Regions from separate parts of the Homo sapiens genome. Here region 2 is linked to region 1. Evidence: fine-mapped expression QTL. A gene starts in region 1. The other region holds a variant in brackets. All regions are shown on one strand. Distances are from middle to middle.

Region 1 (2,914 bases):
TTTTAATTCCATCTATCATGTCCTTAAACATTTTAAATGTAATAATTTTAAATTTTTAATCAAATGAGCTCTGCCTCTGAAGTTTTGGGGGATATATTTCTGCCGTTTATTGTTTGTGCTGATTTTCAGTCACAGTGTCTTATTTTATTATTTGTTTTGTAATGTTTAAGTTTTGGACTTCTGTTTGGCTCATCTTCATCTGTGGGGAATGTGAGGGAACTGGGATCTCCAAAAGACATTTGCTTAGTTTCTAATTTCAGAGTGTATTGAATAAATATTTTGAGTAATCTTTTTCACTGGAAATTTCGTTTTATTCCAGTCCTCCTGTGAATATCCTGTTGTTTTGATTACTCTTCAATGCCACTCTCCTTAGAAGATGTACCTCATTCCGTGTGCATTTCGATATGTGGAAGTGTGTTGGGAGGTGGGGTCCCAAATTATTCATTCATTCTTCCTTCGTTTCATTCAGTATGCAAGCAGTCTCCTAAGTAGGCACTCTGAGTGATAAACTCCATGAGATGTAGTTTCTATCCTCAAAAAATACCGCCTTTGGTAGGGATAAAGTAAATAGACCTTAATATAGCTCTTGGACGAGCAGCCCTTGAATAAGTGGTCAAATAAATTTGTTGCAAATAAATACTTTCAGTCATTGTGTTTTAAGAATTATCATTTGTATGCATTGAGGAGAACTTCTACAGCTATTTGTCTTCAGAAAGGTTTTTTCTTTGTATTTCGAAGAATTTTGGCCTTAAAATTTCCAGCTTATTTTCAGACATTCATATCCATTCTACTTAATTGGCATTATAGTCATCAATTGTTGTCTCTTCCAACTCTGAGGGAATTGTCATAAAGGGAATTGTTCAGAAATATGTGTTTCCAAGCACTTGTTCACATATTTGTCTGGATCACATCTATCTGTTCTCTCGACGGCTTTCTTTAGTCGCACCTAAATGTTCCAAGACAAGGGTTGTGTCATTATTTGTATCTCTAGTGCTATTGCTTTTGACACATAGTCAAGGCTTCTCAACAGAAGTGTATCCAATTGGAATTTTTTCTCACCCTCGAAGAGCCAATTCCTTCACTAACGCAGACAAAAGGGGCGGGGGGCTCAGGCGCTGAGGATTCTGGGCACTGTAGTTCCGACGCTCCGGCTGCGCAGGCGCAATGCCCTGCCTGGAGGCCGGCACCGCCGAGCCGCCGCCATTGCTGGAAGCGTTCCCGCCCTGCTCTGCGAGTTCCCTCAGTTGTCCTCAGTTCGGCCGCCAGGTACTCGTTGTCCCGGGCGCCTGGCCTCGGTTGCCCGCCGCCCCTCCCTTGGCGCTTGGCTCCCGGCGGCGTCCGGGGCGTGGCCGTTCCCTCTAGAGCCCCTGTCCCTGAGCGGACCCGCCCACTCCTGAGAGGCGATTGGGGCTGGGCCTCCTTCCCGAGTGTGGGTTCAGTCTCCAGCTGGCCTCCCTCACAGGTAGGGCCGCGTGCCCTATGCGGCCTCCTAGTCCGGGTCCAAACCCGGGAACCCCCTCCCTGCGGGCCTGGCGGCGCTGGGGTTAAAAAGAGCCGGGCGCAGGGCGCAGGGAGTCGAGTAGGGCGGGCGGGCCCCTGACCCGACTTTCCCGGTCTTCCCAGCCCCGCGCCTTGCAGGCCCTGAGGAGGGCATACCCGAAGTGGGTAGAGGAGAGCAGTTAGGGAAAGAAGGCGAGGTTGGCAGGAGCATATCCGCTCTGGCTTCTGAACTGGCAGGGATGGAACTAGGTTCCACATCGGGGGACCTGCGCTACTCAGTAACCGAGGCAGCTTTTCCTGAAATGTCACATTTCAAATACTGTAATCACCTTTTAATCACTTGTCACTCCCTGACATGACAATGGTATTATTGCATTGGTTGGGAAATGCTGGACTGGTACATGGCGCTGAGATTCTCAGCAAAAACATGGACCCTTCATTATTTCTAAATAACTGCACTGGCCAAGGAAGCAAAACAAGTAAAGTTTCTCCTTAAGTCTCTGGATACGTTTGCAATAGTTGGAAAGACAGAGCTTGTAAATAGGGAAATTATAACTGGGGAATAGTGGCCTAGATATCTTCTGCATAATGACAAAGGGGACAGTAGAAACATATAAGGTGGCTACTGTCATGTACTAATAGCTGATTCGTTGTGCTCAAGTGACTTGCCTGTGGTCACAGTTTTACGGTAGCCAAAGCAGGGTTAGAACCTGGGGATGTGGCCAGCCACTCTGGGATTTTATTCCTATTCCACACTCCTATGTATAGGTAGATACTTCTTCTTGTCTGCTTGGAGAGTACAGAAAAGCAGAAAGAAGGGTAAACATCACAGCCCCAGGTCTCAGAGGTCTCAGTAGAGTTTTGGGTTACTCAGTCTTTTTTTCTATGCATTACATTTGCACAATTGAGATCAAGCTGAATATATTAAATGTTAAATATTGTTTATTCTAATTATAAAATAAAACAAGGGATTTATTGTAGTTTGGTTGTTAAACATATGTTACGAGCATAATCTACATAATCTACATAAAGTATTGCCAAAGAGTTTATTAATATTTACAAATATTTTAAAAATGATGACTCAGCTCACTCTTGATAAATGTTAAAGATGCAGAAAACCATTACTCTAGACCTTCGGAATTGAAAATGCCTTATGTTGCTCTTTGTAGGTCTGCTTTAGTGTTCGGGGGTTGCGGGATGGGGCAATATTCTTGGCTCATTTTTTTTCTTTGCAACCTTGTAAAACTTGGGGGTCAGTGTATGGGCTTGGGAGGGAGAGTCAGTTTTCAAGCTCTCTGAAGTAATATGCAACATCATATATGCATGTGCATTATTTTGTGGACAAGGTCAGATTCTCAGATGGGTCCGTACCCCCCCAAAAATTAAGATTTACTGGTATGCATAGATTGTGTAG
Region 2 (2,914 bases), 24 kb after region 1:
AATTGTTATCTGTATGGTAAATTGGCTTTTGTCGTTATGAAGTATCTCATTTCTTAAAAGTTTTTGCCTTAAAATCTGTTTTGTCTGATACTAATATTACTACAGCATCTTTCTTTTGGTTGTTATTTGTATAGTATATCTTTTTTCATCTGCTAACTTTCACTTTCTGTGTATTCTTGTACTTTTTGTCTTTATTTTTAAGGTAGTATATTGTTAATTTTTTATTTTTTTGAGACTGAGTTTCACTCTCGTCGCCCAGGCTGGAGTGCAATGGCGTGATCTCGGCTCACTGCAAACTCTGCCTCCCAGGTTCAAGCGATTCTACTCGCTCAGCCTCTTCAGTAGCTGGGATTACAGGCATGCACCACCATGCCCAGCTAATTTTTGTATTTTCAGTAGAGATGGGGTTTCACCATGTTGGCTAGGTTGGTCTGGATCTCTTGATCTCAGGTGATCCACCCACCTCGGCCTCCCAAAGCGCTGGGATTACAAGCAATAGCCACCACGCACAGCCTCTTCTCTTTTTTTTTTCTAAAAATATCTTCATTTGGCCTTCATTTTGGGAGGATATTTTTGGTAAGTTTGAAATTTTAGATTGGCAGTTATATTCTTTCAACATTTCAAAGGTATCATTTATTGTTTTCTGTCTTATGTACAATCTGTGGAGAAGTGAACCATCTGTCTAAACTTTTCTATAAAAGGCAGGGCAGCAATATTTTTGGCTTTGTTGGATCATAAGGACTCTCTGCTGTGACTACTCCACTCTGCCATTGTAGCACCAAGGAATCCATAGGCAACATATTAACCAAGTAATGTGGTTGTGCTCCACTAAAACTTCACTTATGGACTCTGAAATTTGAATTTCATACATTTTTAATGTCTCACATTCTTTTAATATATTTTTCAACCATTTTAAATGTAAAAATTGGCCAGGCGTGGTGACTCATGCTTGTAATCCCAGCACTTTGGTAGGCCAAGGCAGGCACTGGAGGCCAGGAGTTTGAGACCAGCCTGGGCAACATGGTGAAACCCCGTCTCTACTAAAAATACAAATTTTAGCTAGGCATGGTGGCACTGGCCTGTAATCCCAGCTACTCGGAAGGCAGAGGCACAAGAATCACTTGAACCCAGGAGGCGGAGGTTGCAATGAGCTGAGATTGCCCACTGCACTCCAGCCTGGGTAACAGAGTGAGACTCGGTCTCAAAATAAGTAAGTAAGTAAGTAAATAAATAAATAAAAATAAATATAAAAATCATTCTTATCTTGCTGGCTATACAGAAACAGATGATGGGCCAAATTGGTTATAATTTGTAACCTCTGATCTAATTGTTGCTCATTAAAGGACATCTATCTGTCTTTGGCCAGGTGTTGGGAGGCTGAGGTGGGTGGATCATTTGGGGTCAGGCGTTCAAGACCAGCATGGGAAACATGGCAAAACCCCATCTCTACTAAAAATACAAAAATTAGCCGGGCGTTGTGGCACAGACTTGTAATCCAATCCACTGCACTCCAGCCTGGGTGACAGAGCAAGACACTGTTTAAAAAAAAAAAGAGAGAGAGACAGATTTTTTTTTTTTTTTTTTTTTT[TTTG/G]AGATGGAGTCTCGCTCTGTCGCCCAGGCTGGAGTGCAGTGACGTGATCTCGGCTCACTGCAACCTCTGCCTCCTGGTTTCAGGTAATTCTCCTGCCTCAGCCTCCTGAGTAGCTGCGACTACAGGCACCTGCCACCACGCTCAGCTAATTTTTGTATTTTTAGTAGAGATGGGGTCTCGCCACATTGGCCAGGCTGGTCTCGAACTCTGACCTCAGGGGATCTGCCCATCTTGGCTTCCCAAAGTGCTGGGATTACAGGTGTGAGCCACTGTGCCCTTCCCTGTCTCTCTTTTTTTGGCTGCTTTTAAGAGTTTAGTTTTCAACGGTTTTACTACTGTGTACTTTAATATAGTTTTCTTCATATTTCTCATGCTGAAGATTCATTTGGCTTCTAAGACTTGTGACTTGATTTTTTTTTTTTATCTCTTGTGGAAAATTCTAAGACATTATTTCTTTGACTTAGCTTCTGTCCATTCTCTCTCACTTCTCTTTGTAACCTTCTAGGACTCTGGTTACATCTGTGATAGACCTTTTCACCCTATCCTGGATGTCTCTTCTGCTTTTCTAACGTTTGCAAGTTTTTCATCATTTTGTGTTTCAGTATGGATACTTTGTACTGACCTATCTTCCATTTCCCTAACTCTCTCATGTGCTGTCTCTATTGTGCTCTTAGCCCATAGTTTGAGTTAAGTTACTATATTTATTTTTCAGTTCTAGAATTTTCATTTGGTTATTTTATACTTTACAAATCTTTGTGAGATTGTTAATCTTATGTTCTTGAATATAGTTATCCTAGTTATTTTAAAGTTTATGTCTGAGGCCTCAATTATTTGGATTCATTTTAGATCTGTTTCTGTATATTTGTTTTCTCTCTTGATTTTTTTCCCATGTGACTTTTGATTTTTGTCTCCCTTTTTTTTGGGGTCGGGGGAGGCAGACAGAGTCTCGCTCTTTTACCCAGGCTGGAGTGCAGTGGCGCAATCTCAGTTCACTGCAACCTCCACCTCCCAAGTTCAAGTGATTCTCCTGCTTCAGCCTCCTGAGTAGCTGGGACTACAGGCATGCACCACCATGCCTGGCCAATTTTTTTGTATTTTTTAGTAGAGATGGGGTTTTGCCATGTTGCCCAGTCTGGTCTCGAACTCCTGGCCTCAGGTGATCTGCCCTTGTTGGCCTTTCAAAGTGCTGGGATTACAAGATGTGAGCCACTATGCCCAGCGTGGTCTCCTTTTATGCCTGTTATTTTTTACTGGGTATCAGGCATTGACTATGAAAATCTATAGTAATATTAGGAGGTTCTAGATTATGTAATCTTTCCCACA

Direction of the effects. Positions count from the first base shown, and alleles are read on the strand shown. Sizes are in standard deviations (SD) of each study's normalised expression.
For the expression in monocytes after Pam3CSK4 of the gene that starts at base 1,180 in region 1, TTTG is the low allele of the variant in region 2 and G is the other (moderate effect, 0.64 SD a copy in Quach 2016).

What was found. PIP is the estimated chance that this variant, and not a neighbour inherited with it, causes the effect. A credible set is the group of variants that fine-mapping cannot tell apart.
Region 2: its variant is the best candidate, but not a certain one, in a credible set for the expression of ZNF624 in monocytes after Pam3CSK4 (Quach 2016, PIP 0.51).

The regions. Positions count from the first base shown.
Region 1 is chr17:16,652,116-16,655,029 of GRCh38, reverse strand. ZNF624 (zinc finger protein 624) reads left to right here and starts at 1,180. Exons shown (of 6, transcript NM_020787.4): 1 at 1,180-1,266. It overlaps LOC124903934 (a long non-coding RNA gene), which reads right to left and starts at 1,138. Exons shown (of 4, transcript XR_007065639.1): 1 at 1,060-1,138; 2 at 1-946. RefSeq lists a silencer at 1,271-1,470 and an enhancer at 1,426-1,936.
Region 2 is chr17:16,627,875-16,630,788 of GRCh38, reverse strand. The region is part of intron 5 of ZNF624 (zinc finger protein 624); the gene reads left to right. Among named protein-coding and RNA genes, the nearest start is that of ZNF624, 25 kb to the left of the region's middle. The variant TTTG/G (reference allele first, on the strand shown) is at 1,589.